Linked DNA regions of Homo sapiens: all the other regions are linked to region 3. Evidence: fine-mapped expression QTL. A gene starts in region 3. Each other region holds a variant in brackets. All regions are shown on one strand. Distances are between the middles of the regions. Region 1 overlaps SYTL3 (synaptotagmin like 3). Region 2 holds the start of LINC02901 (long intergenic non-protein coding RNA 2901). Region 3 holds the start of EZR (ezrin).

Region 1 (10,713 bases), 70 kb before region 3:
TCACTGTGTTAGCCAGGATAGTCTAGATCTGCTGACCTCCTGACCTCATGATCTGCCCGCCTCGGCCTCCCAAAGTGCTGGGATTACAGGTGTGAGCCACTGCGTCCAGCCAGCTGGAAACATTCTTAAGCTTCTCGGCCCCTCAGCCACAGCTTCCAGTTCAGCAAACGCCTTGAGGAAAAGGCAGCATCTCGGTACTCGTGGATTTGCCCTGTCTCTGGGACCTTAGCTCCTCAGGTTCCCCATGACTTCGTAGCCTTGAATGCTGATTTTGCCCCCCAGTCCCGTTAGACTGCTGAAAACTCTGCTGAGCTTCTGAGTCTCTTTGCCATTTCATTTTGATTGACATCTTGGCCGTCCAGCCCTTGGACGTGCAGCGGTAGTGATTCAATGTGCTCCTGATGCAAGGAGAGTCAAGCAGGTCAGTAGGATAGAATCAAGTCCTGTGTTGCTTACACAGGGACTTATGCCTTGAAGTGAAAGGCAGCTCCGGATGTCAGGCTTACTTCCATGTGCTTCTCTTCAGCATCTTGGCCCCTTGCATCCTGGTGGTCTTGGCAGCTCTACAATCTCTTGAAATAGTTTAGTTGTTTAATTCAGCTTTCTAATTGTTCTCAGCAGAAAAGTGTGTGTAACACCATTTAGTCTGACATAGCCTGAAGCTGAGTCCCATGACAAATGCTGTATGATTCATTAGCTTCTCCGTTCATCTACCTGGTTCTTCTCTCAGGCTGCTCACACCTTTTGCCAAGCTCCTCTGTCCATTCTCTTCTATCTTCACTTCTCATACCTCACTCACTCATGCTGGTGCACCAGTCCAAGCTTTTTTTTTTTTTTTTTTTTTTTTTTTGGTAGAGATGGGGTTTTACCATGTTGGCCAGGCTGGTCTCAAACTCCTGACTTCAAGTGATCCGCCTGCCTCTGCCTCCCAAAGTGCTGGGATTACAGGCATGAGCCACTGTGCCCGGCCTGTGCCTTTTTGAGTGTGTAAAAATTTTACATTGTTTTCCATTTTAACAGTGGAATGGTGTTGACAGGTGAGATTTTTCAGAGCCAGTGACTGGATGTGGTGAAGCTTGTTTTGTTCTTAGCATTCATCAGTTCAGGTTCCAGCCTGTCTGATGACTTGTTGGTATTGTTTATTGTTTGTTTGTTTGTTTTGAGATGGGGCCTCACTCTGTCGCCCAGGCTGGAGTGCAGTGGTACAATCTCAGTTCACTGCAACCTCTGCCTCCCAGGTTAAAGCAATTCTTATGCCTCAGCCTCCCAAGTAGCTGGGATTACAGGTACGCGCCACTTGCCTGGCTAATTTTTGTATTTTAGTAGAGACGGGGTTTCACCATGTTGGCCAGGCTGGTCTCGAACTCCTGACCTCCAGTGATCCACCCTCCTTGGCCTCCCAAAGTGCTGGGATTACAAGGGTGAGCCACCACGCCTGGTCTCAGTTGCTGTTTTTTTTTTCTATTTTATCTTTCCCTTGTGGTTCTGACTTTCTGCCCCCAGGCTTGTTTTTTTTTTCTTTTTCTTTCTTTTTTTTTTTTTTTTTTTTGAGACGGAGTCTTGCTCAGTCGCCCAGACTGGAGTGCAGTGGGGCACTTTCCACTCACTGCAAGCTCCGCCTCCTGGGTTCACGCCATTCTCCTGCCTCAGCCTCCGGAGTAGCTGGGACTATAGCTGGGACGCCACCATGCCTGGCTAATTTTTTTTTTCTTTTTTTGTATTTTTAGTAGAGATGGGGTTTCACCTTGTTAGCCAGGATGGTCTCGATCTCCTGACCTTGTGATCTGCCTGCCTCGGCCTCCCGAAGTGCTGGGATTACAGGCGTGAGCCACTGCACCCGGCACTCCCATGCTTGTTTCTTAGTTTCTTTTCAAGATGTTTTATAGTGTGGAGGAGCTAGTTGGGAATTCGAAGTAGAAATCAGTTAGGCTTGTCTTCCTATAAAAAGGCAGCACAGAGATTGGTTGCATGCAAAGTATTTAAGCACGTTTAATAGTGATAAGGTAGCTGATTGTATCTTTTAGGCCCAGGAATTTTGTGCTAATTAATAACATTCATTAGCCTCTCCTTATCTACATCGTATAAGCTTGGAGTACCCTAGACTGTGATGATAGTTTTATTTTTCATTTTAGGTAACCAGAAAAATTCAGATACAATTTACTGTTACCATTGGGTGCACACTTTACTTGCTTTATTCTATTTATTCCTCACCATAGCCCTGTGAGATCAGTATGGTTTTTTCCAGTTAGACTTTGCCACAGCTAATGAGTGGCAGCACTAGCATTTGAGTCCAGGTCTATCTGATTCCCAGTCGCAGCCACTTAGCCCCAGACTGTGCCGCTTTCCGCATAGCTGTCCTGCCATGGATATTATCTTGGCCTCCTGGGAGTGATCTTGCAGAATTGCATAGGAGCTAGTCCATTTCGCCCCAAGCAATTTGTGTTAAAGAATGAGATCGTGTAACATTTATTGCTAGGCAAAAACTGTATCTAGGCAAGAGAGGGCCTTCTGAGGATTCTCTGTCTCCTTGAGATAGAACATGTGGCAACTTATTTTGGCAAAGTACAAGCTGGTGCATTATTAACTTGATGTGAGTCAGGATACATGCTGTATGAGTTTTTATTTATGTGCTGTCTTGAAACCAGAACATCAAAAAAGTGAATTAACTGAAGTAACTTATTATATCTGTTATTCTTGATTTCAGGGAAGTTTAATTAGCATTGACAGCACCTGTACAGAGATGGGCAATTTTGACAATGCTAATGTCACTGGAGAAATAGAATTTGCCATTCATTATTGCTTCAAAACCCATTCTTTAGAAATATGCATCAAGGCCTGTAAGAACCTTGCCTATGGAGAAGAAAAGAAGAAAAAGTGCAATCCGTAAGTTGTTTTTTTTAAGTTTAACATGAGACATATTGATTCCAAAATGTATATGAAAAAGTAAAAGTCTAAGAATAACCAAGACAATTATTAAAAAAAAAAACAAAATGAAAAGGCTTACTTCAAGTATTATTATAAAGCTGTAGCAATGCAAACAATGTGTTATTGATACAAGGACAGAACAAGTCAGGAAAGTAGAATCAAAAGTCCAGATACAGACCTTAGCGTATATGAAAACTTACATGATCAAGGAGTGTCTTAGTCCATTTCGGCTGCTGTGACAGAATACCATAGACCAGGTGGCTTATAAACAAGACAAATACATATCTCACAGTTCTGGAGGCTGGGAAGTCGAAGCTCAAGGTGCTGGTAGATTTGGTATCTAGTGAGGGCCCCCTTTCTGGTTCTTAGATGACTGTTTTCTTGTGTCCTCCCATGGTAGAAGGGACAAGGCAGCTCTCTTCGGGCCTCTTTTATGAGGGCACTAATCTTGTTCATGAGGGCTGCACCCTCATGACCTAATCACTTCCCAGAGACCCTACCTCCTAATACCATCACATTGTAGGTCAGGCTTCAACTATGAATTGGTGAGCGAGGTGGACATAAACATTCAGTTGTGGAGCTATTACAGATCAGTGGGGAAAAGTGGACTTCAATAAATGATGTTGAAAAATTTGGCTTTCCACGCAGGAAATACAAAATTAAAATCTTGATTCACACAATCCATAAAGAGATTTAAAATGTTATTCTCACTGACAGACATGAAAAGGTGTAGCACCATTATAATAATAATAATAATAATATTATTATTATTATTATTATTTTGAGGTGGAGTCTTGCTCTGTCACCCAGACTGGAGTGCGGTGGCGCAATCTCGGCTCACTGCAACCTCCGCCTCCCGGGTTCAAGTGATTCTCCTGCCTCAGTCTCCTGAGCATCTGGGACTACAGGCGTGCACCACCACGCCCAGCTAATTTTTGTATTTTTAGTAGAGACGGGGTTTCACCATATTGGCCAGGCTGGTCTCGAATTCCTGACCTCGTGATCCACCCACCTTGGCCTCCCAAAGTGCTGGGATTACAGGCATGAGCCACCACACCCGGCCAGCACTATTATTTTAATGTGCATTTCCCTTATTACTAACAAAGATGAGCAACTTGTTTTAAAAAAAAAAAAATAGAGACAGGGTCTCACTATGTTGCTCAACCTGATCTTGAACTCTCAGACTCAAGCAGTTCTCCCACCTCAGCCTCCCAAAATGCTGAGATTACAGGTGTGAGCCCAGCCTTTTGAGCCACTTTTTATATATGCATTTGCCACTTAGGTTTATTTTATTTTGTTTTTTTGAGACGGAGTCTTGCTCTGTTGCCCAGGCTGGAGTGTATTGGCACGATGTCAGCTCACTGCAACCTCTGCCTCCTGGGTTCAAGCAATTCTCCTGCCTCAGCCTCCTGAGTAGCTGGGATTACAGGTGCCCGCCACCACACCTGGCTAATTTTTGTATCTTTAGTAGAGACGGGGTTTCCCCGTGTTGGCCAGGCTGGTCTTGAACTCCTGACCTAAAGTGATCCACCCGCCTTGGCCTCCCAGAGTGCTGGGATTACAGGCATGAACCACTGTGCCTGGCCAGGCTTATTCTTTTGTGAGTTTTCTATTCATATCTTTTGCCCATTTTTCTTTTTAAAAATTTAATTAATTAAAATTAATTTTTTTTTAAGAGACAGGGTCTTTCTTGCTTTGTCACCCAGCTTGGAGTGCAGTGGTGCCACTATAGCTCACTGCAGCCTCAAAGTCCTAGTAGGCTCAAGGAATCCTCTCACTTCAGCCTCCTGAGTAGCTGGGACTACAGGAGTGGAGTGCAATGGCACGATCACAGTTCACTGCAGGCTCAAGCCATCTCCCTGCCTCAGCCTCCTGAGTAGTTGGGAGGCACATGCTTGTAGTCTCAGCTATGTAGGAGGCTAAATTTGTAACTTTTTTTTTCCAGCTAGATTTTTTAACTTATTTTTGTAGAGACAGGGTTTTGTTCTGTTGCCAAGGCTGGTCTCAAACTCCTGGGCTCAAGCCATCCTCACACCTCAGCCTCCCAAAGCTCTGGGATTACAGCCATGAGCCACTGCACCTGGCCTCCCATTTTTCTATTGGATTGTTTATTGTTTTATTTATTTACCAGAGGCTTTTTGTTAAACCTAATTTAAATAGGTTTAAAAATTATTT[A/G]TTAGTTATATGTATTGTACGTATTTTATCCATCCTAGCTGTAACTTGTTTTCTAACTTGTTTATTATGACTTTTCTTGTAGAAAGTTTAATATCAAATGTATCAAGCTTTTCCTTTAAACTCTCTGCTTTTTGTGTCTGTAGAAGAATTCCTGTGGCACCCAAGGGTTTAAATACGTTCTCTGGTTTCTTCTTATCGTTTTTTTTTTTTTTTCCCCACACTTAGATCTGTTCACATTACAAGCGGAATTGATTTTCTATATATAGTTTAAGGCAGGGGCCTCAGTTTTGCCTTTCTTTTTTCTTACATGGGGAACTTCTGGCATACTGTTTTAATTACCAGCTAAAGAGTGATGATGGGAAAAGAAATCAATTGTTGATTTAATCAAACTCTCTTCTGCTCTGAAATTTTTAGTAGCTCTTTAGTACCAGACAAATTAAGTACACATTTCTATAGCACTTGTGGTTCCTTCGTAACAGAATCTCTCCTATTGTTCTAGTCTTAGCTTTTATTATTACTCTTCCTGTACCGTCTACCTCAGGAAAACTGGAATAGTCTTTGCCCCAAAAGTATTTCCTGACTTTTAAATTTCAAAATTTGAGGAATGCAGTTAAAGCAGTGCTTATATTTAAAAGAAAAAGACTTAAAATGAATTATTTAAACCTCCACCTTAAAATGCTAGAAAAAGGCTGGGTGCTGTGGCTCACAACTATAATCCCAGCACTCTGGGAGGCCAAGGCAGGTGAATCACCTGAGGTCAGGAGTTTGAGACCAGCCTGGCCAACATGGTGAAACCCCATCTTTACTAAAAATACAAAAATTAGCCGGGCATGGTGGCAGGCACCTGTAATCCCAGCTACTAGGGAGGCTGAGGCAGGAGAATCCCTTGAACCAGGGAGGTAGACGTTGCAGTGAGCTGAGGTCACACCATTGCACTCCAGCCTGGGCAACAAGAGCAAAACTCCGCCTGAAAAAAAAAAAAATAGAGAATACTCAAATACCAGTATAGGAATGAAAGAAGAGACAACATGACAGCACTTGCAGACATTCAAGTATAATAAGGGGGTCAGGCTGGGGGCTCATGGCTGCAAGCCCAGCACTTTGGGAAGCCGAGAAGGGTGGATCACCTGAGGGTCAGGAGTTCAAGACCAGCCTTGCCAACATGGTGAAACCCCGTCTCTACTAAAAATACAGAGAAAATTAGCCAGGCATGGTGGCATGTGCCTGTAATCCCAGCTACACAGGAGGCTGAGGCAGGAGAATTGTTTGAACCCAGGAGGCAGAGGTTGCAGTGAGCCAAGATCATGCCACTGCACTCCAGCCTGGGTGACAGAGTGAGACTCCCTCTCATTAAATAATAAATAAAAATTAGCCAGGTGTGGTGGCACACACCTGTAGTCCCAGCTACTTGGGAGGCTGAGGTGGGAGAATCACCTCAGCCCAGGAGGGCTGTGATTGTGAGCTAAGATTGTGCCACTGTACTCCAGCCTGGGCAACCAAGTGAGACTCTGTCTGAAAAAAAAAAAAAAAAAAAAGAAAGAAAAAAATATATAATAAGGGGATATTATGTAAAACTTTGTGCTAATAAATTTAACAGCTTAGATGAAATGAACACCTTCTTTTCTTTCTCTCTTTTTTTTTTTTTTTTTTTTTTTTTAAGAAATGAGGTCTCACTATGTTGCCCAGGCTGGTCTCAAACTCCTGAGCTCAACTGGTCCTACTGCCTTAGCCTCCCAAGTAGCTGGGATCACAGGTGCACACCACCGTGCCCAGCCAATTAAAAAAAATTTTCAGTAGTGATGAGGTCCCACTATGTTGCCCAAGCTGGTCTCAAACTCCTGGGCTCATGCAATCCTTCCGCCTTGGCCTCCCAAAATGCTGGGATTACAGGCATGAGCCACCACACCTGGCTGAAATCGACACATTCTCAAGAGACACAAATTGCCAAAACTGACATGAAATGAAATAGAAAACCTGAATAACTCTATATCTGTTAAAGAGATTGAATTGGTAATTTGGCATCATCTAGAAGAGTTGAAGGGGCATATACCCTATCACTCCTGGTTATATGCCAAGAGAAGTGCTTGCACATGTGCACCATGAGCAGAGGGAAAAACTAGGACATAAGACAAATGTTCATCAACAGGATAAATGACTTGTGTATTCATTCAGTGGAATGATACGTAGGATTAGAGATGAATGAGCGGCAGTTACAGCAACATAGATGAATCCCAAACATAATATTGAGTGAAAAAAAGCAAATTATGGAAGAATGTATACAGAATGATCCCATTTATATAAAAGTTCAAAAACAGGGAAAACTAAGCAGTACATTGTTTAAGGAGACACATCAAAATGGTGAAACCATAAAGAAAACCAAGGGGGTGATAAATATAAAATCCAACGTGGTTATTACCTGGTTACGGGCAGGACTGTGATAGGGAAGTCACTGGTTATGTTCTGTTTCCTAAGCTGGGGGGCAGGGGTACATGGGTGTGCACTTTATTATAATGCTTCCAACCGTATAGGTATATTTTATATATTCTGTTTTACATATTTGAGATTGCATGAATGTGTAATGCTCAGTAACTTAAGAGTAAATGAACTGTGAAGAATTAGAGATGGAGTTTTGAGGGATTTTTTGTTTTGGTTTGATTTTTTGAGACAGAGTCTTGCTTTGCCGTCTAGGCTGGAATGCAGTGATGTTATCATGGCTCACTTCAGCCTTGACCTCCTGGGCTCAGGTGATCCTCCAACTTCGGGCGTCGAGTAGCTGGGACTACAGGTGCACACCACCACACCCAGTTGACTTTTAAATTTTTCGTGGAGATGAGTTCTCCCTGTGTATTGCCCACGCTGGTCTCAAATTCCTGGCTTATGGAATCCTCCCTGAGCCAGGTGCCTGGCCAGTTTTTGGGTTGTTTTGTTTTTCTTTTTTGAGATGGAATTTCGCTTTATTGCCCAGGCTGGAGTGCAGTGGCGCGATCTCGGCTCACTGCAACCTCCATCTCCCAGGTACAAGCGATTCTCCTGCCTCAGCCTCCTGAGTAGCTGGGATTACAGGTACATGCCATCATGCCTGGCTAATTTTTGTATTTTTAGTAGAGACAGGGTTTCACCATGCTGGCCAGGCTGGTCTGGAACTCCTGACCTCAGGTGATCCGTCCACTTCATCCTCCCAAAGTGCTGGGATTATAGTTGTGAGCTTCTGCGCCTGGCCTCCTGGCCGATTTCGAGTATTTTCACAAAAAGCTTAACCTAGGGGGAAGAAGAGACCCAAGACTGGGGCTAAAGAAGGGCACAGATAGAGGAGGCTCACTGTGATTTTTTACTTTGGAAAGTAGAGCCTGTTTCTAGCCTGTGGAGAGGGGGCTTGGGCTGCTGCTGGTTGGGGGGTCATTGCCATCACTGGGGCTGCCAGAGGAGCCATGAAGGGCAGCGTAGGGGCCTGTATGGAGGGGTCAGCCTAGAACAGGACAGGACATGTCTTCCTCTCCGCCTGGATTTCAGGGGCTGGGTGAGTGCAGATGGAGACATCTGTCATGCTGCGTGCGACCTCTAGACTCAGCAGAATCCCACTTCTCAGCGGTTGGGAGGAGCAGAGTCTTTGAGGCCCCTGCAAGGAAACAGCACAGTGCGAGGCATATGCTTTCTACTTCCACTTTTTTTTCTTTTGCAGGTGGTGGGTGGCAGAAGGGACGGGAATCCGGCTCATGGCCTTGACATCCAGGCAGGCGAGAGAATCTCTAGTTCCATGGTCTTCGCCAAATGGAGTAGGGCCTGAGGAAGGCAGGACGAGCTTCACACCCCCAGGAATATTCCAGAGGGTTATGTGGCTAGCATTTGACCATAGACTGCATGGATCAGAAGCTGCCCACCCAGCACTAACGTTGCTCACTATTAGGCTATTAAGTCCTTTCTATCAACCCAAAAATTCCAGCAGGAAGCCTGGTAAAGAAAACGCTGGCATGTGGGTTCTCTGCTGCCCCCAAACTCTTTATCCACCCCTTTCCCTGAGTTCTCACTCTGTCCCCGCTGTGTTTGGCCCCTAGGTATGTGAAGACCTACCTGTTGCCCGACAGATCCTCCCAGGGAAAGCGCAAGACTGGAGTCCAAAGGAACACCGTGGACCCGACCTTTCAGGAGACCTTGAAGGTACTTGCTGGACAGATATTCCTGTGCAGAGTCCTCCCGAGCCCGGGTGGAGCGCCTGGGGCAGAGTCCAGTGGATGGTGCTTTCAAACTCTTGACTCAGTTAGATATAATACAGACACCTATATGTTTCTTCGCAGCTCTGTCAATCAGTGTTAAGTTGGTAGAAAATAAATGTCAGCCTTTGTACAGGAAAAGTGCAGAGTCTGCCAGACTCAGGAATGGCTTTTGATTAATGATTTCTGAGAAGATGGTGAAAAAGAACCTGGCTGCCTCTTTGTCTCGGGCTAACACCGGGGCACAGGATAATTTTAAACATTAGTTTGTCTTAGTGAATGTTTCTGTCAAAGAGGTGCTCTCAGACAGAGTGCCCTGAAAATTAAACTCCTGAGTTACTGTCTTTGTAAAAGTGCCCCTTTATTGTATTTCTGACAAACTCAGGTTTCTTCTAATTTTATTTTTTTTAAATGAATCCTTTTATGAAAAATCTTACAAAGGAATTGTTTGGGTTTTCACTTTCTATGATACTAGGAAATGTGATTGATGGTTGAGGGCAGAGATGGGGCCATGCGCTCTGATGTCGGGTGGAAGGCTGCAGCTGAGGTCTGGTATCTGCAGAGAGCTGGCTGTGGTGGCCCCAATCTTGGTGCAGGGTGAGGGGGGTAGCCCAGAGCTGCAGAGGCTACCCTGCCGGGGCTGGGCAGCCAGAGGTCCCCTCGTCTCATGCCTATGACAGGAGAGGGCTTTGTTTGCCTTTCTTGGCAAGTAGGGGGTGTCTGTGAGCTGCCAGCCAGGGGCCATCTGGGCAGCTGGCACAGAGCCCTGAGTTCATTAAATAATAATAGCCCTTGTTTCCTGGGTCCCTACTGTGGCCAAGTGCTTTATATACAGCCTGGGGTAATTATTAGAATCCTCATTTACCCACGGGGAAACTGAGACCTAGAGAGTCCTTAGAAATACAGCTCAAAGCCACAAAGGACTGGCAGTTCTCAAAATTTGTGTGCGTAAAATCCCATGGGGATTTACATTTTTAAAACATTTCTTCTTTTCTTTTTTTTTTTTTTTTTTTTGAGATGGAGTTTCACTCTTGGTCGCCCAGGCTGGAGTGCAGTGACATGATCTTGGCTCACTGCAACCTCCACCTCCCAGGTTCAAGCGATTCTCCTGCCTCAGCCTCCTGAGTAGCTGGGATTAAAGGTACCCACCACGATGGCCAGCAAATTTTTTGTGTTTTTAGTACAGATGGGGTTTCACCATGTTGACCAGGCTGGTCTTGAACTCCTGACCCCAGGTAATCTGCCCACCCCGGCCTCCCAAATGCTGAGATTACAGGCTTGAGCCACCACGCCAGGCCTAAATTTCTTATTTTCTAAGATGCCCCTGTACTTAGAACTGGGGATTTTTTTAAAATGCAGATTCTGGGCCGGGCGCGGTGGCTCACGCCTGTAATCCCAGCACCTT
Region 2 (10,713 bases), 52 kb after region 3:
CATTTCTTGTGCTCTGATTTTTTTTTTTTTTTTTTTGCAGGAATGCTGCCTTCATATCACCAGTAGTGTTTATGTTAGAATGTGCCCCTTCAGTGACTGTGGCAGTCTGCAATGTATTAATCCACTCAATGGCTAGGGCCTTTAACGAGTATTATATACTTCCAAGAAGGTGCTAGCAGAGAGCCTCACCATGCATTTTACAGCAAAGAAGTGAGCAATGTCATTAAGACACCCTCCAACTTGCAGTTTTTAGACAGAAGGCCAATTCTGTATGTATAAGAACACTGTATGTATTAAACGTGGTAATGATCTCCCAGGCTGCTGGAACCATTTGTTCACTATCACAGAACCATGACTGATGACATCTGGTAAAATGCTTTCCCTAAAAATCCTGCAAATTCACCTGACGTTCTGGTTCTGGGTAAAACAGAGACAGTAAAATATCTTGAGGCAAATATTAAGGACAATACCACAGCCCAGGAGAACTGGACACTAGAGCCGAGTCTTCCCTTTTTCTTCCTTCTGTACAGCATGGAAAGCCAGTCAGCAGGCTCCAGGAAGCAGCCTTTCTGATATTCTCTTTGCTTTTTTTTTTGAGACAGAGTCTCGCTCTGTCACCCAGGCTGGAGTGCAGTGGCACAATCTCGGCTCACTGCAACCTCTGCCTCCCGGGTTCAAGCAATTCTCCTGCCTCAGCCTCCTGAGTAGCTGGGACTACAGGCACGCACCATCATGCCTGGCTAATTGCTGTATTTTTAGTTGAGACGGGGTTTCGCTGTGTTGGCCAGGCTGGTCTCGAACTCCTGACCTCAAGCGAGCTACCAGCTTCGGCCTCCCAAAGTGCTGGGATTACAGGCGTGAGCCACTGGGGCTCCCCACTCTGATATTCTCTCAACTGCCTGTAAGCTCCACACTGCCCTCAGGATGGTGGTCTAATGCCTTAGCGTGGCTGTCAAGCCATCTGTGTTTTGACTGACCTTATCCCCCGACACTCCCAGATCGTGAGCCTTGTGCTTGGTGTTGCCTACAATCTCCATAGCCTTCCCCATCCTTCCACCTTTGCACACCTACTTAAATTCCTCCATGGTTGCAATTAGCTCTCAGCTGCCTTATTTGCTTATTCATCTCTCACTCCACTAGACTGCAAGCCCTTCCATAGCAGGAAACATGAACTACTCCTATTTATTCCTATGTACATGCTTGGGACATAGAAAGCAAGAATTATTTGTTGAACGACTGGATGGATGAATGAATGCTTCAAAAGAGCCATTTAAAATGTAGATTCTCATTGAATGCTCAGGTTTCAGGGTGATGGCTGTGTTCACTTGTTTAGCAATAGTAGAGGACATTTTCACTACCTGCTAGCGTTTGGCTCCTCAGTTTTGTTTAATAGAAGATGTAGTATTGGGGCAACAGTAATGAGTTAGAGAACAGGCAGGTTTTCAACAGCAGCCCTTTATTGCAGCAAAAATTTATTGCAGCAAAAGATAATCTGAGCCAACCACAACCTAAATCACTGTTGCTGGCAATGACAGGAGTTAAAAGGAGAATCAAAATGATTATGTTGAACCACTCTGGCATCCGGCATCTATTACAGTGCATCCTCAGTTCATGTTACTATTTTTGTAGCTAATAACATCAGTTTTTTCAATAATTGATCTTACATATTTAATATATATGTTAATTTCACATTACTTAGATACAAGTGCTATGAAAGATTGCTAAGTCTAAAAGCAGAAGTGAATGTGGTCTAAAAAAGTGAGTTTGATGAATTTCTTTTCTATTGAGCTGGCTGCTCATTTGACTAAATCAACTAATCCACACAGGTGTTTGGGTGTCAAGTACGTGTTGCCTAAGTCATATTCTTTTGAGCTAGAAAAGTTGTTCCACTTAATTTCAAACCATTTTGTTAATACTTTCCAAATTTCTGGAAATCTGCTCATTTAAAACTTACTTGGATGTCTAATGGTTTGCAAATTTTGTATTTTAGCAGTAGTATCCACCACTACCCTGATGTGCAACACACACTGCACATTTTACAACTTTATACTTGAAGACTTAAAAGTCTCCCTTTGACTGATTAGCGGTGTTGAAAATGATGGGTCATGTCTATGATGCAAAATCAATTGACAAAAAATACTGAATGGCTTTAAAAGGGAAAAGCATCTCTGAATTATGTTTGTAAAGGAACATCTTTAATTTTTCTTAAATTCTACTTTCTGTTCTTAGTTTTTTGTCTTTTTTTCTTTTTCTTTTTTATTTAGAGATGGGGTCTCACTGCATTGCTCAGGCTGGTCTGAAACTCCTGGCTTCAAGTAATCCTCCCACCTTGGCCTCCCAAAGTACTGGCATTACAGGCATGAGCTACTGTGCCCAGCCCAATGTTTTGCTTTTCAATAAACTTTGTTTTCTTTTTTATTTATTTAGTCTTACCAGACCAAATTATTTTCATTAAGAGTTATGGTCAGAGTTGGAGCTTGGGAGCAGTAAGAAGGAACAGGTTATAATAATAAAAATACTATTTCCCTAATACTTGTTTGTAAACCATGCTTTTTGTTTTTGTTTTTCAACATACCCATTTTTCTCAATAGGCTATATTGCTGAAAAGTTTTCAGAAAGTTCTATTAAAAAATAACCAAAGTCTTACACTTAATAGATTTTTAGTAACTTTGTTAAATGAATGTCAGACACAAAGCTAATGCTAGTATTTGGAAGTGATGTCGTTGAAGTTTTGATAAGGACATTTAAAGTTATGGATGATAATTAAGTCTTACTGTAAATTACTACCTGACTATGAAACTTAGTACAGTCAATGTAGCTCTGTAAGAGAAATAATAAAGATAGAATAGTCATGACTAGGTGCTTTTCTTCTTAATCATTCACGGGAAGGAGCAAAAAAGATAATGAACATTTTTTTGAATACCTATTTGTGCCACTCAATAATTCAGGAACTTCAGAGATCTCAGTTAATCCTTTCAGCCAAACAGGTTACAAATAAAGAATCTGAGGTTCATAAAAGTTTGGAAATTCATACAACTTCAGAGAGACGGGTTGGGGGATGGTGGGACTGGGGATTAAACCCAAGCCTGCCTGGCTCCAAGGCAGTTTCCACTGCAGGGTCTACTGTATTTGGAATTTCTATCAGGTAGTTCTGGTAGCTTTTTGGAAGAAAGTGTAGAAGAAAGTTTGAAAGTCATTCTTATGATCGGTTTGCTTCCTGGTTCCTAACCAACCAAGTGGATCTAAGTGAGGCCACTTTGTAAACAGGTCGTTCTCCAAATTGATGAACACAGCAGAATCTGAGACATTTTCAGAAACTTTGTACTGCAGATTTAATATGGTCTGTTGCTCAGGGGAAGCGGAGATTGTTGAGACTGTAGGCACCCTTATTTTCCCTCTCACATAGCAATCTTTTTTTTTTTCTTAAGACAAGGTCTCGCTCTGTCACCCAGGATGGAGTGCTGCGGTGTGATCACAGCTCACTGCAGCCTGAACCTCCTGGGCTAAAGTGATCTTTCCACCTCAGCCTCCCAAATAGTGGGGATTACAGGTGTGAGCAACCACGCCCCACAGTAGCAATCCTTTTCTTAAACCAGCAGCAGGACAAATGTCTTCCTGAAGATTTGTAACACCTGGTAGTGATCCCAACTCCTTCTGGGCCCGCTTAAGACTAAGTTTCTGGTTAGGAAAGAAGAAACTGCAGAGCTTAGTAGTTAAGGGCACACAGGAGTCAGACAACCTTGGGTGTGAATCCCGGCACTGCCATGGTACTAATGTGTTGCATGAGTCATGTTGAGAGGTGAGGCCAGCTGGACTTCCTGGGTCCAGTGGGGACTTGGGGAACTTTCCTGTCTTACAAGAGGATTGTAAAACGCACCAATCAGCAGGATTCTAAAAGTAGCCAGTCACGGGAAGGATTGAAAAAGAGGGCACTCTGATAGGATAGAAATGGAACATGGGTGGGGACAATAAGGGAATAAAAGCTGGCCACCCCAGCCAGCAGCGGCATCCCACTTGGGTCCTCCTCCATGCTGTGGAAGCTTTTTCGCTCTTCACAATAAACCTTGCTACTGCTCACTCTTTGGGTCCCGGCCATCTTTAAGAGCTGTAACACTCACCGCGAAGGTCTGTGGCTTCATTCTTGAAGTCACTGAGACCACGAACCCACTGGCAGGAACCAAGTCCAGACACAATGTTATGCAAGCTTTCTAGACCCTTTCTGTAAAATGGGTATAATAATAGTATCTAAGTCATGGGGATTTTGTGAGGATTAAATGAAATGCCTGTTAAGCATTTAAAATGCCTGGCACATTGAAAGTTCTTTTTGGAGACAAGTCTTGCTCTGCCGCCCAGGCTGGAGTGCAGTGACATGATCTCTGCTCACTGCAGCCTCTGCCTCCTGGGTTCAAGCAATTCGGTGCCTCAGCCCTGAGTAGCTGGGATTACAGGCATGCGCCAACACGCCCACCCAATTTTTGTATTTTTAGTAGAGATGGGGTTTCACCATGTTGGCCAGGGTGGTCTGGAACTCCTGACCTCAGGTTATCCTCCTGCCTCGACCTCCCAAAGTGCTAGGATTACAGGTGTGAACCACTGCCTTTGGGCCAAAAGTACTTAATTCTTATTGATGTCCACATTCAACAATTACTAGGTTTGTTTTTTCTGCATCCAGCTGCAAATGATCTTCAAAGTTGTGAACTCAGGAAATCTCAGAGGCGTTTATAGGCTTTCCAACCAGAGATGATATTTGTAATTCAAAGAAGTAAATAGAAATCCTTAAGAGAACCCCTTTCAAGCTAAGTTCCCATCTAATATGGAGTGGTGGCTTCGAATGATCCTTTTGGCTTATCTTTTTAAGTGTAAGAATTTTTGATGAATCACACTTCGTACCTATTTGGTCACTTTCACCAAAGTACAAAACCAGTCTGCCACCAGAAGAAATTTAATAACCTTGAGACTCAGAGAAGCAATGCTGCCTGATTGGTGGACAGCCAGACCAGTGAGGGTCAGACGTGGCTCTTCGGCTCCGGACACGGGAATGTGGTGGAAATGAGATCCTCCAGCGATTCTAAGGAGTGTTTTGTTCTTCTGGCTTAAGAGAAGGGCAGAGGACAGAACCAAGGGGAAAGAGAGACAGGCCCAGCCATTGTCTGACGTGAGGCACGATAACACATTAGAGGGCTGGTTTAGCAAAGGGCAAGGTAGAGTTGGCATTAGACGCGCTTGCAAAGGGAGGCGGGCAAGAGCTTCAAGACGCGAATGACACTTGAGCAGCCTGGGCTCACGTCTGGTAAGGTTTACGCCGCCTGTTCCCGCCATCTGGCAACTCCCTCCCAGAAGGGTGAGTTTGGTTCTTGGCAAATCCCCTTCGGACACACAAGCTCTTTTATTAAAATATAACCCCACTAACAGATTGCAGACTAGGCACAGAAGCCCCAAAGCACCCCCAGAGACCGCAGCAGTCCCGCCCCGCCGCCCCCGGATCCGCGCGGCTGCCAGAAGCTCCCCTCCCCCAGATCTTGGCCCCTCCCTGAGGCGCGCGAGCGTGTCGTCGCCCGCTCCCGGCCAATCAGGGCGCGCGACCAAAATAGCGCC[A/T]TATAAAAGCTGGATGGCGGGCGCGGCCGGTGCAGAGCCTCGCGCTGGGGTGGGGTTGCGCGCGCAGGTGAGGGGGGCGGGGCCGGCGCGACCGGCGGGGCGGGGCGGACACTCCCACCGCGCACCTGCTTCTGCCTGACGTGTACCCGGAAGGTCGTCAGCTCAGGCTCCAAATATGTAACAGTGAGTTTCTAAGTGAGTCACACGGACGCGGTTGGTTTCCAGTGAGGCATAACTCATCGCTTCACTCTTCTCAACGGTTCCCTCTTCGGAAGGAAGCGCAGTCCGCAGCGTCGTCCGAGGGCGTGATCGCCTGCGTCGCACCCGCGTCTCCAGTGGCCACCCCTTGTCCTACAGGAACGCGCATCTGCTTAGCAGGCGCTGAGCCCTTGAGGAGGCCTAAAATGAATGAACGCGGCTGTGCCTCCTGAGCAGGCTCACAGTTGTGGGTGGGGGACAGAAGGGTGTCCATGCCTAAGGTCGACGGCGATAAGACAGACGTTCTTCCCAGGAGGAGATCAGTTCCAGGTGGGAGGCATTTCTAGGAGTCACCTTTCTCCGAGGAAGTGACCTGAGCTGTAGGAGGTGGAATCACAAAGGCTTTGGTGCCCTACACACCTGGGTTTTAGCCTCAGCTTGAGTCACTCACCCAGTCTGTGACGCTGAACACATCAGGAAACCTCAAACTTTCCCCATCTTTAAGATGCAGATAATAGCCGGTCACCATGGCGTGTGCTTGTAATGGCAGCTACTCGGGAGGCTGAGGCAGGAGGATCTCTTGAACCTGGGAGGTGGAGGTTGCAGTAAGCCGAGATCGTGCCACTCACTCCAGCCTGGGCAACAGAGCGAGACTCCATCTCAATAAATAAATAAATAACACTACATGACTGATAGCATATTTTTGAGGAGCATCTCTCCCCCTCCGTGCTTGGGTTTAATCCCCCCTTCCTCTCTCCCTCCCTCCCTTCCTCCCTTCTTTCTTCCTTCGTTACGTTTCTCTTCATTTCTTTTTTTCTCCATCATTCCTTCATTTTTCTTATTTTTTCCTAACTGATATAATTTACACACAATAAATCGCACAGAAATTAAGAGGACAGCTGGGTGAAGTTTTACATATGTATACACATGTCATTAGCCCCTAGGTCAAGATCTAGAACATTTCCATCACCCCAGGTTTCCAACTGCTCCTTCCGGTCAGTAGTACTTCCCCAGAGGTAACCACTATTCATTTGGACTTAAATTACCAAGTATGAGTTGTGTCTACTCTTAAACTTCATGTAATTGCAATCAAGCATTATGCTTTATTCCAAACTTGTCCAACCCGCACAGGCCACGGTTTTGAATGTGGCCCAACACAAATTTGTAAACTTTCTTAAAACATTGCGAGATTTTTTGTGACTTTATTTATTTATTTATTTTTTTGAGACAGAGTCTCTGTTGCCCAGGCTGGAGTGCAGTGGTGTGATCTCGGCTTACTGTAACCACCGCTTCCCAGGTTCAAGCGATTCTCATGCCTCAACCTCCCGAGTAGCTGAGATTACAGGCTGGTGCCACCACACCTGGCTAATTTTTGTATTTTTAGTAGAGATGGGGTTTCACCATATTGGGCAGGCCGGTCTCAAACTCCCGACCTCAGGTGATCTGACCACCTCGGCCTCCCAAAGTGCTGGGATTACAGGCATCAGCCACCGCGCCCCGCCATGTGATTTTTTTTTTTTTTTTTTAGCCCATCAGCTATTGTTAATTTTAGTGTATTTTATGTGTGGCCCAAGGCAATTCTTCCAGTGTGGCCCAGGGAAGCCAAAAGATTGGACACCTTTGCATTTCTGTTTTTTTTCACCCACCGTAGTGTCTGTAAGATTCCTCCATGTTATCACACGTATCAGTAGTTTGAAGTTTGTTTATTACTGAATAGTATTCTATTGCATGAATATACTTAAGTTAACTTATCCTTTTTACCATTGATGTGTATGTGGGTTGTTTTCAGTTTTTGGCTATTATGCATAAAGCTGCTCTGAACATTCATGTAGTATGATGAATAATTGATTTTAGTAGGATATATACCTATAAAAGGAATTTTTGTGTCATAGGATGATAGGTGTATATTTAGTTTTAGTAGACACTGCTGGCAGTTTCCCAAAAGGATTGAATCAATTTTTGAAAATTGGCTGGCCGCAGCAGCTCACGCCTGTAATCCCAGCACTTTGGGAGGCCGAGGCAGGTGGATCACGAGGTCAGGAGTTCGAGACCAGCCTGGCCAATATGGTGATTCTCCATCTCTACTAAAAAAAAAAAAAAAAAAAAAAAATTAGCTGGGCATGGTGGCGTACGCCTGTAGTCCCAGCTACTTGGGAGGCGTAGGCAGAAGACTCTCCTGAGCTCAGGAGGCAGAGGTTGCAGTGAGCTGGGATCATGCCAATGCACTCCAGCCTGGGTGACAGAGCGAGACTACATCTCAAAAAAAAAAAAAAAAAAAAAAAAAAGGACTGGTCGAGGTGGCTCACGCCTGTGATCCCAGCACTTTGGGAGTCCAAGGCAGACAGATCACCTGAGGTTGGAAGTTCGAGACCAGTCTGACCAACATGGAGAAACCGCGTCTCTACTAAAAATACAAAATTAGCTGGCCATGGTGGCGCATGCCTGTAATCCCAGCTAGCTACTCGGGAGGCTGGGGCAGGAGAATCGCTTGAACCTGGGAAGTGGAGGTTGCGGTAAGCCGAGATCATGCCATTGCACTCCATCCAGCCTGGGCAACAAGAGTGAAACTCCATCTCAAAAAAAAAAAAAAAGAAAAGAAGAAAAGAAAATTATAGTTACTTCACATCCTTGCCAACAATTGGTGTTAACAGTCTTAAATTTTTGATGGTTATGCAGCAGTATTTCCTAGTGGTTTTTTTTTTTTTTTTTTTTGAGACAGAATTCTGTCACCCAGGCTGGAGTGCAATGGCACGATATTGGCTCACTGCAACCTCTGCCTCCCGGGTTCAAGCAATTCTCCTGTCTCAGCCTCCTGAGAAGCTGGGATTACCGGCATGCGCCACCATACCCGGCTAATTTTTGTATTTTTAGTAGAGACGGGGTTTCACCGTGTTGGCAAAGCTGGTTTTGAACTCCTAACCTCAGGTGATCTGCTCACCTCGGCCTCCCAAAGTGCTGGGATTACAGACGTGAGCCACCGCACACGGCCAAAATCAGGTTGTTTTCTTACCATTGAATTTTGAGAGTTCTTTAAATATTCTGGATACAAGTTCTTTATTAAAAAGACTCCCTTCCATTGACTTTGCACCTGCCACTTTGTGAAACGTCAGTTGGCCATATTTGTGTGAATTTATTTCTGGACCATTTGTTCTGTTTCATTGATCTGTGTCTATCCCTTCACCAACACGACACTGTCTTGATTGCTGTAGCTTTAAAGTAAGTCTTAGCGCCCTCCAACTTTGTTCTTTTTCCTGATTACTTGGGTATTTTACTTCATTTGACTTTCCATATGTATTTTAGGCTTGTCTATATGTTTTAACAATCCTGCTGGGAATTTTGTTCTTTTTTTGTTTGTTTTGTTTTGTTTTTCAGACAGAGTCTCAGTCTGTAGCCCCGATGGAGTGCAGTGGTGCCATCATAGCTCACTGTAACCTCAAACTCCTGGGCTCAGGGGATCTTTCTGCCTCAGCCTCCTGAGTAGCTAGGATCACAGGTGTGCATCACCACACCTGGCTAATTAAAAAAAAATTTTTTTTTTTTTTGGTAGAGACGGAGGTCTCGCTATGTTGCCCATACTGGTCTCAAAATTCCTGGCCTCGAGTGATCCTCCTGTCTCAGTCCCTGAAATGCTGGGATTACAGGTGAGCCACTGTGCCCCACCACGTGGGGGATTTTGGTTGTATTTGTGTTAAATCTATAGATCAATTGGAGGAGAATTGACAACTGTATTGAGTCTTCCAGTCTGTGAATATAGTATGTCTTTACATTTATTTAGATTGTTTTATTTCTTTCATCAGCATTTTGTGGTGTTCATATATAGATCCTTTACGTGGTTTGTTAGATTTATGCAGACTATTTTTCAAAGCCACTGTGATTTAAAAAATTTGGTTTCCGGATATTCATTACTATTATAAAGAAATATAGTTGGTTTTCATGTGTTAACCTTGTATCCTGCAATCTCACTAAACTGACATTGGTTTTAGAAGGTTTTTATGGAATCCATGAGATTTTTTACACAGGCAATCATGTTTGTGAATAGGTACTAGGGACAGTTGCGTTTTCTCCTTTCCAATCTGTATGACTTTCATTAAATTTTATTTCCCTGTTTGACAAGATAGGTCTTCCCGTGCAATGTTGAGTAGGAGGGGTGAGGTGGAGTTCCTTGCCTTGTTCCTGATCTTAGAGGGAAAGAAGCATTACGTCTTTCACAGTGTGTTTAGTTATAGGCTTTTTTGTAGGTGTGCTTTATCGGTTTAGAGAGCTCTGTTCGATTCCTCATTTGCCGACTGCTTGTACCGTGAATTGATGTTGAATATTGTCGGTTGATGTGGTCTTGTTGCAGATTACATTTTCATTGATTTTCAAATATTGCATCTCGGGAATAAACCCCGGATCATGGTGTGTAATTTTTTTTTATGTATTACTGTTTCAATTTGTTAGTATTTTGCATCTGTGTTGATGAGGGATATTGATTCATGAGGATCTTTTTTTTTTTTTTTGTATTTTCTTTATCTGGTTTTAGTATCATGATGATGCTCATCTCATAAAATGAGTTAGGAAGCATTCCTTCCACTTCTGTTTTCTGGAAGAAACTATGTAGAGCTCATGTTATATCTTTCTAAAATCTTTGGTACTATTTGCTGATGAAACCATTTGGGGCTGCAGATTTCTGTTAAGGAAGATTTTCAACTAGAAATTCAATTTTTTTAATAGATAAAGGATTTATTTAGGTTTTTAATTTATTCTTGGATGAGTTTTGGTAGCTCGTGGCCATCAAAGAATTGATCCACTTTATGTAAGTTGTCAAATTTATGTGTGCACAGTTGTTTGTGTAATTTATTACCCTTTTAGAGTCTGTGGGGTGCTCAGTGATAGCCTATCCTTCATTCCTAATTATTGGTTTTGATTTTTTAAAATTAA
Region 3 (10,650 bases):
GTGTACATATACTAGGGAAAACAAAAAGCTACTGAATTATTTGGATTTAAAAATAACGTAGTTTAAGGAGTCTGGTCCTTTAATATTTTGGGGGGCAGTGGATGTAGTAATGAAAGAAGGCAAGGACTTTTTTCATCAACGATTGTCACAAACTTATTAACATGTAACAACAAATCCAGACTCCCCACCTTCCCCCACACCTGGTCCTTCTCCAGGATTACTTACCTCAGCGATGGCACCACCACACATCCACTTGCGCAAGCCAGAAACGAGAAGTCAGCCTCGACACCACCCTTGGCCCTGCATATCCAACCCATCACCAGGCACTATCAATTCTACCTCCCAAAGAACTCTCAAATGCATCCACTTCTGTTCCCACCACCACCACCTTGGTCCAAGCTATGAGCTCCCTCAATGGTCTACCATAACTACCCTTGCTGTCTCCTGCCTCCTGTGATTTTCCTATTACAGATCACAGTCAACTTTTCAAAAGGCAAATCTGATCATGTCACCTCCCAGTCAAAACCCCAAGTTAAACTAAAAAACACCCAAGAATGGCTTACAAGGCATGGCCTGACCTGTCTTCCTCTCTAGCCACATTGGGCTTCATGTGAAACCCCAAACTCACACTACTTCCTCCCACCACAGGGCCTTTGCACACGTTGTTACCTCTGCCCAGGGAGGTCACGTCCTCAAGGATGCCTTCCTGACCTCCCCTATTTGCACCCCCACCAGCACATACACACTTCATCTACTCTCAGGCCTCATGTACCCCTCTTCAGGCATACTCTCTGAAGCTGCAGTTTTACATTTACTCTGGGATTGCTGTCTGTCCCCGAAACCAGACTGTAAATCCACTGACAGGGACTGTGTCTGTGAACATCCAAATACATTCATTGTGCCTTACAGCGTGATCATGGCAAATCACTCATCCTACCAGCACCTCTCACTGCCACATGGCAAAATGTTAGCTACCTAATTCACCACTGCCCCTCGTGGAGGAGGAGGGGTGGAAACAGATGCTACGCATCCTCCTCAATTGCGAGGGGATTGTGAGGGGGGAGTACATTCAGTAAACTGTCCCTGTTAAAATATTTAATAGAAAAGGTTATGTATTCCCAAAGAGGCAAGGTAATCTCAGAAATTACCTTAAAATTTTGGCACAGTAGAAATGTGAACACACTTTCAGAGTTTTCCTAATGAAAGGTAAACCTGCTTTTGTATTAGAAATGTCTATAACACTTCAGAAATGAACAGGTAAGATGTGTTGGAGCCACTTAAAGGCAGTTCAGCTCTATGGTTCTCATGACAGCTTAAAGAGATCTCAGCCCTGAACACAATCCCCTTTTCCTTCCAGAGCTTAACTACAGCAGTGTTCCTTGCTCACTCCCCATGCCTTCTTTCCACTGGGCAGAAGAAAGCAAGTGTGGGAGAAAGGCGCTCCGCAGTCACCCTAACATGAAGGGGCGGGCAGAGAGGATGCTTCCGGGACCAATGATCTGAGCACCAACTCCTACAACTCTCCCTAGATGGGGCAGACCCACAAGGCCACACAGCACACCATGTCCTGGGGACTGGCCTGAACAGAGGCCAAGGCTCCCTCTGGAACCCCAAATCACCCTCCTTGGACGTCAGCCAGTCACACATGAATAGAGTCCCTAAGCAGCTGTGGGAAAAGCAAAACCAGACAACAAACCACAGCTGTTCCTCCCTGTGGAGTGCTGCCGCGTGCGCCCCCCAGCCCTCAAGCAAGATTCAGCTGAAGTGTTACTTCTCAATACAGTCTGCCAATTTCCCCATCAGATGATTTTCCTTTCCCCATCAGATTTTCCTCTCGACGTTACCTAGGCTCTTTCCCAGTCTGACAGCACTTAGCGGGTTTTCAATTTCAGCATTTACCCCGCATCTTGGCCCAGGTACCAGACACTAAGCTTCCAGAGAACAAGGTCTGCCTCGCCCTCTGTGCAGGTCACTCCGCTTGCTGATGAATAAAGTCTTTTTTTTTTTTTTTTTGAGACAGAGTCTCACTCTGTCGCCAGGCTGGAGTGCAGTGGTGCAATCTCAGCTCACTGCAACCTTCACCTCCCAGGTTCAAGCGATTCTCCTGCCTCAGCCTCCCAAGTAGCTGGGACTACAGGCATCCATACCACGCCCGGCTAATTTTTGTATTTTTAGTAGAGATGGGGTTTCACCATGTTGACCAGGATAGTCTTGATCTCTTGACCTTGTGATCCGCCCACCTCGGCCTCCCAAAGTGCTGGGATTACTGCCATGAGCCACTGTGTACCGCCTCAGTCTTTTAAGTAACTGTTGCTTTTGGGAAACAGTATTAGGAGAAAACACAGGAAATGAGTATTTTCAGTTATACTGTTTTATGAATAAAGTCATCCACTCACTCAGTTCAGGCAAATCAATCAAAAATACTTTGCCCGTTGAATTCAAGGGTTAACAGTTGCAATGAATCAGGTGGAAGGCCAACTACTCAGAGGTATCCATCCTTTAAGTGTGTTTGCCCCTTAATCCAGTTGTTAAACATTAAGCCCAAGAAAACCACCTAACATTCTTCGCTAACATTCTTAACTTAGGCTTGAATAATTAGAATCAATAAACCTTTGTTTAAAGGACACATCCACAGAGCTGTTGGTGGATGTTTCATTTTAACATTTACTAAGGCAGCAAAAAAACCCCAAACCAAACCAAAACTAACTGGATCCTCTCTAACAGCCTTAAGAAATGTCATATTCAAATATGTGCAACCTACGATGCTCTTCTCAGTGATTTGTGGGATGGCTCTAATATAATTTACACACAGAAAGGCTTAGTGTGTTTAACTTATCTCTAAGACCCTCCTCTGCCAAAGAGGGGGCAGGGAGAAATTTCCCATGGCAGACAGGTATGGCTGACCTAAAAGGAAGCCTCTCAAAAAAGGGGTTTTGTTTGTTTTCAGACAACATCTCACTCTGCTGCCCAGGCTGGAATGCAGTGGCTTGATCTTAGTTCACTGCAGCCTTGACCTCCAGGGCTCATCAAGCAATCCTCCCACTTCAGCCTCAGTCAGAGCGCCAGCCACCACACCCAGATAATTTTTCTATTTTTTGTAGAAACAGAGTCTATGTTGGCCAGGCAAGTCTCGAACTCCTGGGCTCATGTGATCTGCCTGCCTCAGCCTCCCAAAGTGCTGGGATTACAGGCTCGTGCCTGTAATCAGGCCACCTCGCCTGGCCTCAAAAAAAGTTTAAAAATTTTAATTGTAGATATTATACAGAATACAGTCTTTCAAAGAGTAACTCTGGCTCTAATACACAAGGTGATGGCTACTGTCTTTCCTTAACAGTTTCACAACTATCTTCACTTTATCAAATGTCAGAAACATCTTTTAAGTTCTGATCTATCATAAAAGACCTCTAAAACAAAATGAAATGAAAACATACCTGCCATAAGAAATAAGAGAGAGAAGGGAGTTCTGACATTGCAACATGGATGAACCTTGAAGACATTATGCTACAGGAAATGAGACTGTCACAAAAGGACAAATGCTATCACGATTCCACCTGCATGAGGTATCTAAAGTTGTCGAATTCATAGAGACAGAAAGTAGAATGGTGGTTGCCAAGGGCTGGTGGTGGGGATGGGGAGGGAGAGTTTAATAGGTACAGAGTTTCAATCTGGGAAGATAAAGTTCTGGAGATGGACCTTGGTGATGGCTATGTAACAATGTAAATGTACTTAATACCTTGAAATGTAAACCTAAAAGTAAGAGGATAAACTGTATATTTTACCAAAATACAAAAAAGAAACCATAAAAATAAATTACCATTCATTATGAGAAATGAGAAAGAAAAGTAGTGACGGAGAACAGGTTAACTTTTTCCTGAGTGCTATCTTAGCTGAGCTCTGCACCTCTTCTTTTAGTGAAATAAAGAAAACCACACCCAGAAGGGTAATCTTCTTGACCACTCCTCCGCATACCGTTGCACTCAGCTCTGCCTGAGTAAGGGGTTGTACTTAGGTCAGTTTCATACCACATGCACTGTCAAGCCTCGATGTCACGTGTCACTTTTAAGTTTGAATTAAAAAGAAAAATTTTGTATAGAAAATACTCTGCATCACAAATGAATCATCTTGATGTAACTTAGGCAAAAATTATATTGGCTTCTGAATCTACTGGCATATTAATTCTTTATCCTAACAGCAAAATTAATACCTCTAACAAAGATCTTAGAGAACATAAAATGTAACAGAAGAAGCACACAAGGCCGGGTGTGGTGGCTCACGCCTGTAATCCTAGCATTTTGGGAGGTCGAGGTAGGCAGATCACCTGAGGTCAGGAGTTTTAGACCAGCCTGGCCAACATGGTGAAACCCCCTCTCTATAAAAATACAAAAACCAGCTGGGCATGGTGGCACATGCCTGTAATCCCAACTACTCGGGAGGCTGAGGCAGGAGATTCGCTTGAACCTGAGAGGCAGAGGTTGCAGTGAGCCGAGATCATGCCACTGCACTCCAGCCTGGGCCACAGAGAGAGACTCCGCTCCCCCATCCCCCACAAAAGGCACACAAGCATTGATTACAGAACCAACTTGTTTGAAAAACCAAAAAAAAATTCCAGATGTATCTGTAATCCCAATTTGTAATGAATCCTGATATTTTGTCCATTGTGATTCAAAACTCAAAAAATGTTAAACCTTCCCCCTAATGTCTAGTCACCAGTTCCCCAGTGTTAAAAGCAGGTAGAATACATACAACTTTCTAAGAAGCGTCAGTCCCAGAGAACCTGCCTTGTGCCTACAACCCCCAGGTCTCGCCAGCAATCTCAACACAATCAGATTCAAGGAGACAGAGGCGCAGGCACAGCCCTTTCATCAGCTGACCAGGAGTGCTCGGCCCGGCCTGCCAGGAACCTCTTATCAAACTCCACCGGCTGCCTGCATCTACAATTCAAGTCCATGGCTAACCTTCTGTTAGAGACAGAAATTCTGCTGCAGCCAGCAAGTTTGCTGGTGTACAGGGCACCGCTTCATGGGCCTAGTAGGAAGCGAAGCTGAAAGGCAACTTCCGAAAGCCAGTCTCCTCTCCCAAACGCCCTTTAATATCTCCCCAGTTGGATCTGGGGCGCCTGTGGTTTCGGACCCTTAGGAGCTCTGAGAACTGGTGTGTGTGGTCGGAAGCCATCTGAGTCTCCCTGTGATTTGGACTTTTTAAGAAACTTCTAAGTTGTATTACTATACCCTTTAAAAACAGACGGAAGCAGTGTAAAAAGGCCTCTAGTTTTTAGAAAAGACCGTAACTACTGGGGAGGGGGCTCACAAAGAAAAAGACTGCAGAGAAAAGCATCAAAATGGTGTTTTCCTAACGCTCCACAAAAGGGTCAACAAGTAACAAAGAGCGGCGAAAACCTCCTCCTATTCCTATCGTCTTCTGCGTGTGAGAAGAACCCTGTTCCCCAGGAACTGCCCCAACACCTCGAGCAGGTGCCTCCCCTCTCCAATGAAGCCTCTCCCGTCCGCCCGGCCCAGAAACTGGGCAACTTACTGGTTTCGGCATTTTCGGTTTCTGGTGAGTATCCTCGATCCCCGAAAACACGACTATCCAGCAGCAGCGAAGACGCTGTCCCAACCTGGAGTCAGAGCAGAACCCTTAGAGCGCCCGCCCGCCCTGCCTCGTCCTCCTGCCGCGCCCGACACTCGGCGCCCGCAGCGCGCTGCCGCTTAAGAACCGGCCAGCCCGGGCCCGGGTGAGTCAGCGCCCCGCCCAGCACTGCGGGCATGGGGAGGGGGCACGGGCGGGGCGGGGCCGGGCCGGGCCCCCGGCGAGGAGGCGCCCGAGAGCGGGGGCGCGCGCCCAAGGGGCAGCCGGCGGGCACTGGAGGTGCCCCCCAGTTGGGGGTGGGTCCGAGGAGAGGGGGTGCGCACCCAGGGGACCCCCAGCATGAAGGGGCTGGTGGGGGGCGCAGGCCCGGGAGAGAGAGGGCAGGGGGAACACTCAGTGGGGAGGATCGGGGGGAGGGGGCGCGGGCCCCGGGGAACACTCGGCCAGGAGGGTCAGGGGAGAGAGCGCCGGCCGGGCGGGGAGGGGTCTGGGGGACACTCGAGGTGCACCCAGCGGAGAGAGGCGGAGAAGAGGGGGCGCGGGCCCAGGGATACCCGGCGGGGAAAGGCCCGGGGAGAGGGAGCGCGCGCCTGGGAGAGAGAGGGCGAGGGGCAGGAGGAACACCTAGGAGGAAGGAGTCCCGGGACAGCCAGCGCGAGCCCGCGGGGCACCCGACAGGGAGGGGTCAGGGGAGAGGGGGCACAGGGCGGGCGGGGGGGCACTCGCTGGGGAGGGATCCGTGGAGAGGGGGCGCGGGCTCGGGGTCCGCCGAGGAACTTCCCGGGGCTGCCAGGAAGCCCGTGAGAAGCCGAGCACTCGGCAAGTTTCACTTTGTGTAGCAACCGTTGCCCCGCGGCTGCAGTCACAACCGTCAAGCCTTTGAGAAACTCTTTCAAAAACTGCAACCGCTCGGGAGCCGCCGAGGGACGGCGCCCAGGCACCCAGGCTCCGCGTTTCCTTCGGGAGAGACCTGAGGGGACCCGGCGCCGAGGGGAAGGTCGCGGGGCCGCGGGCCGGCTCAGCTCCACCTGCCCCGGGGGTGCCGGGCGAGAACCCCGCGCCGCGCCCCCTAGGCTGCCCGCCGCACCTGCCGCCGAACCCCGCCGCCCGCCCGGGCCCTCCACCAGGAACCCCCCGCCCAGAACCCCCGTCCCGACCCCGGCCGCCGCACGCCTCACCCGGCGCCTGCAGTGCTCCGTGTGCTCCCCGCCGCCCTTGCGTCCGCCGAGTGCGCTCGCTGCCCGCGCTCCCAAAAGCCCCGGCGGGGCGGGTCCCGGGACCACGCCCCTTCCCGCCCAGCTCCCGACCTGTGAGGTGCGCCCCCCGCAAGATGGCGGCAGCCGGGCCTCGGGCTGGGTGGGGGCGGAACTTGGCGGAAGTGCGCGCTACTCCCCTCGCAGATGCAAGTGGGGAGGCTGTTTGTCCCACAGCGGGCAGGGGGAAGTCAGGAAAACGTAAATAAATCTGGAGGGGCGGACGGCTTGGGGGAATCGCTGGACCGCTTGGGGCCGGGACCGGGGGCCAGTTCCGAGGCCTCGGCCCTGGGGCGGCTGCACCTGGCCCCGAGTCTCGGTGCACGTGGCCGGCCCAGCCGCCGCCTTTCCGAAGCTCTGGTTAAGTGGCACGTTTGTGGCCTCTTTTGACGTGACTGGCAAAAAGCTCCATGGGATTTCTCTGAAATTCTAGGAATTAAGTTTTTTTGTTTGTTTTTTTGCTAATGGTTCTCAACAAATTTTTAAGACACACAAAACACATACTTTGGGGGCCAGTAGAATTTGCTGCGGGAGAGCTCACTCTAGAAGGGGTTCTCAACGTCTGGCTTCCAGACGAGCAGCAACAGCATTCACTGGGAACTTGCATAAGTGGAAATTAGGTGTTGCTCAGCCTTAGGATTCAGAAACTCTAGGGCTGAGCCCAGCAATCAGTGTGTTACAAGCCCTTCGGGTGATTGTGATGTTGGCTAAAGGTTGAGACCAGAGCTTCTCCTGAATTCCTCTCCTGGGTTTACTCCTCCCTTTCTGCTTTTAGTTTTCTTGTTTGTAAAGCGGCATAATTATGGCACCTGTATCAGAGGGTTCTAATGAGGATAATGAGTTAGTACATGTACGATGCCTGGAACAGTACCTGACACTTAGTAAGCACTTAAATCTATCCTGGTAGAAAGAGAAACCAATGACTTTGGGCGAAGTTCCAAACTCTGTTTCCCAATTTGTTGAGTGAACATACTAGTAGCCCCACCTACATAGACTTGTAAGGATTAAATGAGATCGTGCATGTGGAATGCTTAACTCGTGCTAGCCTCATAGTAATTGATGCTTAACCTGTCTTCCTAGGGACACACTGCTGTTTGGGCAACCCTTTGTCAGGGCCTGTTATCTCCCACTTGCAGATCCAGGGCATTTCAGAGGTCAGAGAGAGGAGGGAGGCCTCTTCTGAGATTTTGACCTCTATTCAGGTAAGTGTATTCCCTCTGAAAGACTGAACTTTTCTTTCCCTTTTTTTTTTAGACGGAGTTTTGCTCTTCTTGCCCAGGCTGGAGTGCATTGGCGCAATCTCAGCTCATTGCAACCTCCATCTCCCAGGTTCAAGCAATTCTCCTGCCTCAGCCTCTTGAGTAGCTGGGATTACAGACACCCGCCACCAAGCCCAGCTAAATTTTTGTATTTTTAGTAGAGACGGGGTTTCACCATGTTGGCCAGGCTGGTTTTGAACTCCTGACCTCAGGTGATCTGCTCACCTCGGCCTCCCAAAGTGCTAGGATTACAGGCGTGAGCCATCACTCCTGGCCTGAATTTCTTTTTTATTAAAATGAAGTTATAGGCCGGGCGCTGTGGCTCATGCCTGTAATCCCAGCACTTTGGGAGGCCGAGGCAGGTGGAACACCTGAGGTCAGGAGTTCAAGACCAGCCTGACCAACATGGAGAAACCCCGTCTCTACTAAAAATACAGAATTAGCTGGGTGTGGTGGCGCACGCCTGTAGTCCCAGCTACTCGGGAAGCTGAGGCAGGAGAATGGTGTGAACCCGGGAGGCAGAGCTTGCAGTGAGCTAAGATCGCACCATTGCACTCCAGCCTGGGCAACAAGAGTGAAACTCCGTCTCAAAAATAAATAAATAAATAAATAAAATGAAGATATAATGGTAACTGCAGTAGAAAGAAAACTATGAAAGATATTTAAATTACCTGCACTGATAATGTTTCCAACTGGACATCAATACCTCCACTGCCTTATCACTGCCTGGAGCCTGGTTAGCCAGTTTGGGTTCCCAACTCTCATAATAGGATATGCCTCTAATCTAATTTTTATCTCGCTCCATTTGAAGTATACTGTCTTCTAAATTGAATGTTTGAAATAGCGGTGCCCCAAGACCTTGAAGAGCATTTCTGAACTTTACCCTTTAGGGGAATGCCAAAAAATGAAGTGGCCTGTGGCAGTGTGGTAAAAATGAAACGGCCAGGTGCGATGATTCAAGCCTGTAATCCCAGCACTTTGGGAGGCTGAGGCGAGCAGATCACCTGAGGTCAGGAGTTCGAGACCAGCCTGGCCAACGTGGGGAAACCCCATCTCTACTAAAAATACAAAAAATTAGATGGGCATGGTGGTGCACGCCTGTAACCCCAGCTACTCGGGAGCCTGAAGCAGGAGAATCACTTGAAACCAACCGTGAGGCAGAGGTTGCAGTGAGCTGAGATCGCACCATTGCATTCTAGCCTGGGCAACAACAGCGAAACTCTGTCTCAAAAAATAAATAAAATAAAATAAAAATGAAACGATGGCAGGTTTTTGAGGCAAACAGAGCTAAGTCTGAATTCTGCTTCCTGCAAACTGACCAACCTGGTCCGTTCGGGCAAGTCTGTCAACCTGACTGAGCATCCATCTCTTCATCTGTAAAATGGAAAGGATAATATGTATTTCATGGTATTCTTGTGTCACTGAATCATATCATATGAGCATTTGACTCACTCAACTTTTATGTACAATTAGCCCTCTGTATTTGTAGGTTCTACATTCATGGAATCAGCCAACCTTGGATGGAAAAGATTTGGAAAATAATAAAAATAATACTACAATTAAAATACCAATAAAAATCCAATACAGAATATAGTATAACAAGTATTTACATTATATTACATATTATAAGTAATCTGGAGATGATTTAAGATATACAGGAGGATTTTGTACATTATATGCAAATACTGTACCCTTTTATGTCAGGAACTTGATCATTGGAGAATTTTGGTATCCTCAGAGGTCTTGGAACCAATCCCCTGTGGATACAGAGGGATGCTATATAATCTTTCTTACATAAGTTAAAATAGTATAAAGTCATATTTGTACATGCATTCCTTATCATGTATCTTACATTACTGTAAGTATGACAACATAGCATTTACATGTTACTGTACTGTTCTGCCCACCAAGGAAACACTTACAGTGTATCTTATGAATGTTTTAAGATTTTCTAAGGGTAATTTATTTTCATCAGGGTTTGGAACCTAAACCCCTGCCCCCAGCACACACACAGAAGACTCAACTCCAGCTGTGTTGAAACTTGAATATGCATTAGAATCACTCATAGTGCCCTTCTCCAGGACTTATGGCTCACTAAGACTAAGTCTCAGGCAGCCCCTGGGAATCTGTTTCTTTAACAAGTCCCCACGTGGTTTTGATGATGTACACCACAATTTGAGAACAACTGACTTAGGATGTGGCAGGACCTTGACGCATATTTCACTTGCCTCTCCTTTTAGCCCTCATTTGTGAAGCTGTTCCTTGTGTTTGAAAGTCATCCTTTTGTTAATATATGATACTCAGTGCCTTGGAAGGAAGTGAGGAAACACTGGAGCCAGGACTACTGGAAACTTCCCTGCTGTTAGTTTAGGTATAAGACCTTGAATGACCCTTCATTGCCGGGTTTCCATTTTCCAGTTTTTCAGCTAGAGAAGGGTAATCCTAAGTCTGCCTCTTGAGCCTGGTGAAGGGCTGTTGGTAATTTCCTGGGAGTTCTTCAGACAAGGTTAAAACTAAAGTGAGGAAGGGCAGCCCTCCCGGAAGCTCAG

The links.
Region 1: its variant is fine-mapped to the expression of EZR in whole blood (INTERVAL, PIP above 0.99).
Region 2: its variant is fine-mapped to the expression of EZR in whole blood (TOPMed, PIP above 0.99).

What each region holds. Positions count from the first base shown.
Region 1 is chr6:158,742,776-158,753,488 of GRCh38, forward strand. SYTL3 (synaptotagmin like 3) reads left to right here. Exons shown (of 18, transcript NM_001242394.2): 12 at 2,705-2,883; 13 at 9,153-9,255. Among named protein-coding and RNA genes, the nearest start is that of MIR3918, 17 kb to the right of the region's middle. The variant A/G (reference allele first, on the strand shown) is at 5,101.
Region 2 is chr6:158,864,188-158,874,900 of GRCh38, forward strand. LINC02901 (long intergenic non-protein coding RNA 2901) reads left to right here and starts at 5,627. Exons shown (of 3, transcript NR_160980.1): 1 at 5,627-5,790. RefSeq lists enhancers at 4,601-5,273, 5,274-5,946, 5,847-6,016, 5,947-6,620 and a silencer at 5,447-5,766. The variant A/T (reference allele first, on the strand shown) is at 5,596.
Region 3 is chr6:158,812,550-158,823,199 of GRCh38, forward strand. It overlaps EZR (ezrin), which reads right to left and starts at 6,819. Exons shown (of 14, transcript NM_001111077.2): 1 at 6,768-6,819; 2 at 5,533-5,617. The coding sequence starts at 5,544. It overlaps EZR-AS1 (EZR antisense RNA 1), which reads left to right and starts at 5,430. Exons shown (of 3, transcript NR_102425.1): 1 at 5,430-5,556; 2 at 7,923-8,044; 3 at 9,591-9,690. RefSeq lists enhancers at 669-718, 3,838-3,887, 4,751-4,920, 5,403-5,452, 8,974-9,073 and silencers at 3,496-3,555, 5,663-5,862, 6,003-6,992, 7,053-7,102.